2 separate regions of the Homo sapiens genome follow, and region 2 is linked to region 1. The links come from fine-mapping of genetic effects on gene expression. A gene starts in region 1. The other region holds a variant in brackets. All regions are shown on one strand. Distances are between the middles of the regions. Region 1 holds the start of SERPING1 (serpin family G member 1). Region 2 overlaps YPEL4 (yippee like 4).

Region 1 (2,906 bases):
AATATTCTCCTGTTTCTGTCCTTGGTCAGTCCCTTAGAGTAGCAGTTCTGGTGCTAGCAGCAAACTTTCCTGAATGCTCCAAACACAGCCAGAGGATAGGCCTGCAGTGAGATGACGATAGAACATGATAGCTATATTAGGTCATCAGAGACAACCTGTTTGTTTTGCAGATGAGGCAGAGTTATCAGATTTAGCAAAAATACAAAATGCCAATTATATTTGAATTTCAGATACACAACAATGACAACAAAATTTATTTTACCATAAGTATATTCCAATGTAAGCATTTTTACCATAAGTATATCCCAATGTAAGTTTTTTTTTTTTTTTTTAGAGACAGCAAGTGTCTTACTCTGTTGCCCAGGCTGGAGTGCAGTGGCATGATCAATGCTAACTGCAGCCTTGAACTCCTGGGCTCAAGGGATCCTCCTGCCTCAGTCTCCTAAAAGGCTGGGATTACAGGTATGAACCCCCAGGCCTGCCTACTTCGTGTGTTTTATCTGGCAATGCTGAGAGGACAGCTAGATGTCGAGGACAGCCAGATTTCGAGGACAGCCAGACGTCAAGGGGGAAAGCAACTTGCTGGCTCACACAGCCAGCCAGGTCTATTGTGGAGCCCTAGTCGCAAACACATACACCCCAGCTTTCAAGTTTTTAAATATTTATTTAGTTAGTTATTTGTTTTTTGAGACAGTCTTGCTCTGTCACCCAGGCTGGAGTGCAGTGGTGCAATTTCAGCTCACTGCAACCTCTGCCTCCCAGATTCAAGTGATTGTGCCTCAGCCTCCCTAGTAGCTGGGACTACATGTGCGCGCCTGCACTGCCCAGCTAATTTTTGTACTTTTAGCGGAAACGGGGTTTCCCCATATTGGCCAGAGTGGTCTCAAACTCCTGACCTCAAGTGATCCACCCACCTCGGCCTCCCAAAGTGCTGGGATTACAGGCGTGAGCCACCGTGCCCGGCTAGCTTTTTTTTTTTTTTTTTTTTTAATTAGGTTGAATGCTTGTTGAGCTGGGTGCCTCACATCCGTTGTCTGTTATACAAAGAACTACTGATTATGGGTCTCTACGAGCAAAAATGGCAGAACACCTACAGGGCACAGGGGAGATGGGAGCAGGGATTAGGCTTCAGAATACTTCTCCAAATGAGGGTGATCAGGGCCCGACATTTCACTGCTCTAAGGCTCAGTATCTTAACTATCAAATGGGTACAATGGGGCACAAAGGGTTACTTTGAGGAATAACGGAGGTGAGCAATTTCCAAAAAGTTCATTCCTTTAAAAACTGCGGAGCACATTTTGTGTACATGCTGTTTTTATTGTTACTCATGAAGACGCGGGGGAAGCTTTGGTTGTGTAAAGCTGAGAACTGCACCCAAGCTTCCCCGTTCACCCCACCTACCAGGGGATTTGGGCTAAATTCCTGGCCTGGCCCACAAAGAAGACCAAGCGGTCAGTCCCATTCCGTCCCATCCTGATTTACAGGAACTCACACCAGCGATCAATCTTCCTTAATTTGTAACTGGGCAGTGTCCCGGGCCAGCCAATAGCTAAGACTGCCCCCCCCGCACCCCACCCTCCCTGACCCTGGGGGACTCTCTACTCAGTCTGCACTGGAGCTGCCTGGTGACCAGAAGTTTGGAGTAGGTTTGGTGCTGGGCAGGGGTGGGGAGTAGGGTGGAAAGCATGGAGTGAAGAGGTCTAGGGAGGGGGTCTCCTCACCCCCGCCTTCCTGCCCGCCTTGATCTCGGGGGTCTCTATAGGCTTGCTTCCACCTGGGACTTCTGCCTCCTCCTACCCCAGCCCCTCCCGCCTCAGGCCTGTTGTGCTCAGCCCCCCAGGACCTCCCCTCCCCCACGCCTCTGGCCTCATTGTTTGGTTAAAGCAGGACCCCCTCCCCCTCCCACCACCTCCCCTCCGACTGAACAGATGGACAGAGACCCGGGCCCACGGGGAGAGGAAGGGCCAGCCGGTGCCGGGAAAGGGAAGCGGTTTGGGGAAAACAAAACAGAGGGAGGAGCCAGGGAGAAGGTGGCCCCAGGAGGGAGGAGGAGGGAATTCGCTAAGAGGGACTGGGGCCTGAGACGGAATGGGGGCGGGCCCCGGGCGGGGTGGGGGCCCCTGGGCTCCCAGGGTGGGAGCTGGCTCCGAGGCTGGCTGGCTCCGCAGGTCCGCTGACGTCGCCGCCCAGATGGCCTCCAGGCTGACCCTGCTGACCCTCCTGCTGCTGCTGCTGGCTGGGGTATGTGGTCCCTTGTGGGATGGGGGACGGGGGTGGAGACGGGAGGCGGGATGGTGCGGGGTGCGGGCGGTGGCTGAGGATTAACCCTTCAGGCTCCGGGGAATGAGGAGAGCTCCTCTTGGGATCATTGAGTGTGATCCTTGCACACGCACTCGTAGATGGTGGAAAGAGCTCAGGACTCAGACAGATGCAAGTTCTAATCTTGGCGGGCCATGTAGGAGCTGCGCAGCGTGGTCCTGAGGACGTCACTTTTCTCAGCCTACTCCTCCTGATTTATAAAATGTTGAATAAACAGATCCCACCCTGTCCACCAAGCAGGCTTGGCAGGAGGATCACATAGGGCAAGGAGATGGGAAGCATTTTGTGATATCAAAGCAAGAGTTTGTTGTAGAAAAGAGCTGTGGGGAGGAGAGGTTTGGCTGCTGTGACACAGACGGTGGTCCCAGGCTAGGGCCTGTGAAGACAGGGAAGAATGGTAGCAAACATACGTGGGTCTGGGTGGGGGTCAATAGCAGTGAGAGGTCCCAGTGGTCTGGGAGGTCATGGACTAGAAATAAGGCTAAGAAGTGCAGGATCCCAGGAGAAAGGTAGGTAGGGGTGTGTGTATGTGCGTGTGTGTGTGTGTGCACGCGCAAGTTGGTATCACATACTCAGCAGATGATGTA
Region 2 (2,906 bases), 47 kb after region 1:
CTTTGGTGCAAGAAATGGGTCCAAGAGGAATAGGGTTTTGAGGTCCTCTGCTGGACCCTGAGAGGGATCTTGGCATCATGAGGCATGTAGAAACTGAAAGATGGGTCAGACTCCCCTGAGGCCTTAGTTGAGGGATGTTGGACATCTCTCCATGGCTTGCCTTTTTCCCTTGCCCTTTTACTTCTGTGCCTTCCAGTTCTAGTCCTCCTTTCTCCTGCCCAGACAGCCTCTCCATTCTGATCACAACAACAGTATTTGAGATAGTACAGTTAGCTTTATTTCCCTTTTTTTTTTTTTTTTAAGACAGAATCTCACTGTCGCCCAGGCTGGAGTGCAGTGGCGCGATCTCGGCCCACTGCAACCTCTGCCTACCAGGTTCAAGTGATTCTCCTGCCTCAACCTCCTGAGTAGCTGGGATTACAGGCGTGCACCACCATGCCTGGCTAATTTTTGTTGTCCAAGCTGGTCTGAAACTCTTGGCCTCAAGTGATCGCCCACCTCAGCCTCCCAAAGTGCTGGGATTACGGGTGTGAGCCACCGCACCCTACCATATGTTCCTTACTTTCTCCAGTCTATTAAAACTTCTATTTGAGCCTCTTGTCTGGGCACAAATAGCCATTTGATACTGCCACTCCACTCTAAAAAACAATAATTTTCCCATATTTCCCTAATACCATTGGGATTAAATCTAGATTCCCTAAATAGTTTATGGCTCCTGCTTCTCTTTCCTTTCATGTCCTCTCACCCACTTTTTAAGGAGACAAAGTTTTGCTCCAGCCCAGGCTGGAGTGCAGTGGCGTGATCATGGCTCACTGCAACCTCAGCCTCCTGGGCTCAAGTGATCCTCCTGCTCAGCCTCCTGAGTAGTCGAGACTACAGGTGCAGGTATGGCTTTTTTTTTTTTGAGACAAGATCTTGCTATATTGCCCAGGCTAACCTCAAAGTTTGGCCTCAAGCAAGCCTCCAGCCTTGGCTTCCTAAAGTGCTGGAATTAAGGCGTGAGCCACTGCTTTCAGCCCACAAGCAACTTTTATTTCCTTCAATTAACTAAACTTAAGTTACTTGACACATACTCTGTCTGAAATACTTCCATCACTTTTGCCTTTGCCTACCTAACTTCTTATCTTTCAAATGCCATCGTAGTCATCGCTTTTGTGAAGCCTTCCTTGACTCCTTACATCTAAGCTGAGTTCCTTTCCTATGAGCTCCCAAGCTTCCTCCACGTCCCTGCTTAGATCCCTTATTATCATCTTCTACTGGGATTTCCTGGTTATTGCATCTCCTACTGGACAGAAAGCTCCAGGAAGTCAGGTCACAGCTGCCTTATCTTCACCATGTGCTTAACATCTAGTGCTTAACACAATGCCTGGCAAGTAATAGATGCTTTATAAATATTTGGAATATTAATGAATGAATCTGGAAAGAATATTATAGCTTACCAAAAAATGATCTTTATGATGTATATGGTCTCCCCTGTAACTGTTGGGCACCCAACAACAGTAGGGATTTCATACCA[C/G]TGCCAATAAAATGTCCCTTGGGTCATATGGTGGCATTGATGTTGCGATTTTGAGCTTTTTTTTTTTTTTTTTTTTTTTTTTTTTGAGACGGAGTCTTGCCCTGTCGCCAGGCTGGAGTGCAGCAGCACGATCTTGGCTCACTGCAACCTCTGCCTCCTGGGTTCAAGTGATTCTCCTGCCTCAGCCTCCCAAGTAGCTGGGATTACAGGCACGTGCCATCATGCCTGGCTAATTTTTGAATTTTTAGTAGAGACGGGGTTTTGCCATGTTGGTCAGGCTGGTCTCAAACTCCTGACATCAGGTGATCCACCAGCCTCGGCCTCTCAAAGTGCTGGAACTGCAGGCGTGAGCCATCGCGCCCGGCCTAATTTTTGAGCTATTTTGTTTCACTTCCCATCAACTGCCAGAGCAGCACTTTGGCTGACTGATTTTCCTTTTAGCCTTAAGTGTGCCCATGAACTGACCAGAGCATTACAGAACCAGGCTGAAAAGCCACGGGACTCAAGAAAATCCTTATTCTGAGATGAGCCTCTTTCAGAGCCCGATCCTGGATCTAGGCAAAATGGACTTACTGTCAGGGGTGCCAGCAGACACAAGCGGTTTTGGATGCTCTCGCCGAGTAGCTAACAAAACCCACCCCTCTTACTAAGGCAAAACTTCACCTGAACGCTTATTCCCCGGTAAAAGCTCAAGCAGTAGTCTTGCCATAGACAGGGCAACTGCTGCCCCCTAGTGGTATAAAGGGACAGGCCCGGGTGGGTGGGGGTGTGTGTGTGTGACGGGGACAGTTTATGGGTACATGCACAGGGAAAGAAAGTCAGAGGACAGGTTGCCTCAAGTTGCTTTTTCCCTTTTTATTAAAAATAGACTCAAGCACTTTATGTATCATACAAAAGTTTCATTCGCTGGTGGCAGCCACGGGAAAGACTGGCCCCGTAGCACTGATTTTCCACCTCCCCTCCAGGGGACTGGGTCCCAGGAGCAGTGACTGGGCCTCAGAGAAAGCCCATAAAGACTGCTTACTCTGGAAGCAGCCGACTAGGGGCTGTTCCGCGAGCAGCTGTCCCCACCCCACCCAATGGCAAAAGTTAGATACTCGAAAGTGCCTCTTCAGTGCCAAGATAAACTAACAAGTGGAGTGAAATGGAAAACCCTTTGATTATTTTACTATTTCCCAGGGCCTGGGATTTGAGTTTTCCCTGCACTCAAGTCCTTTTCCCTACAAATAGGGGTAGGAAACTTCATCCTCAGAGACTCTGGTCTCCTGGTGTCTGAGACCAGAATTTCACTCCAACCCAAGTCTTTTCTCATCTGCTGTTCTGTGGTCCATGATCTACTTGCCCTGTGACCCAAGGTTTGTCCTCTGTTCACTCAAAAAGAGGTGGAGCA

Evidence for each region.
Region 2: its variant is fine-mapped to the expression of SERPING1 in whole blood (TOPMed, PIP above 0.99).

What each region holds. Positions count from the first base shown.
Region 1 is chr11:57,596,081-57,598,986 of GRCh38, forward strand. SERPING1 (serpin family G member 1) reads left to right here and starts at 1,605. Exons shown (of 8, transcript NM_000062.3): 1 at 1,605-1,642; 2 at 2,169-2,241. The coding sequence starts at 2,191.
Region 2 is chr11:57,642,736-57,645,641 of GRCh38, forward strand. It overlaps YPEL4 (yippee like 4), which reads right to left. Exons shown (of 5, transcript NM_145008.3): 5 at 2,352-2,906. All of the region lies in intron 1 of MIR130AHG (MIR130A host gene), which reads left to right. Among named protein-coding and RNA genes, the nearest start is that of MIR130A, 3.0 kb to the left of the region's middle. RefSeq lists an enhancer at 535-1,034. The variant C/G (reference allele first, on the strand shown) is at 1,517.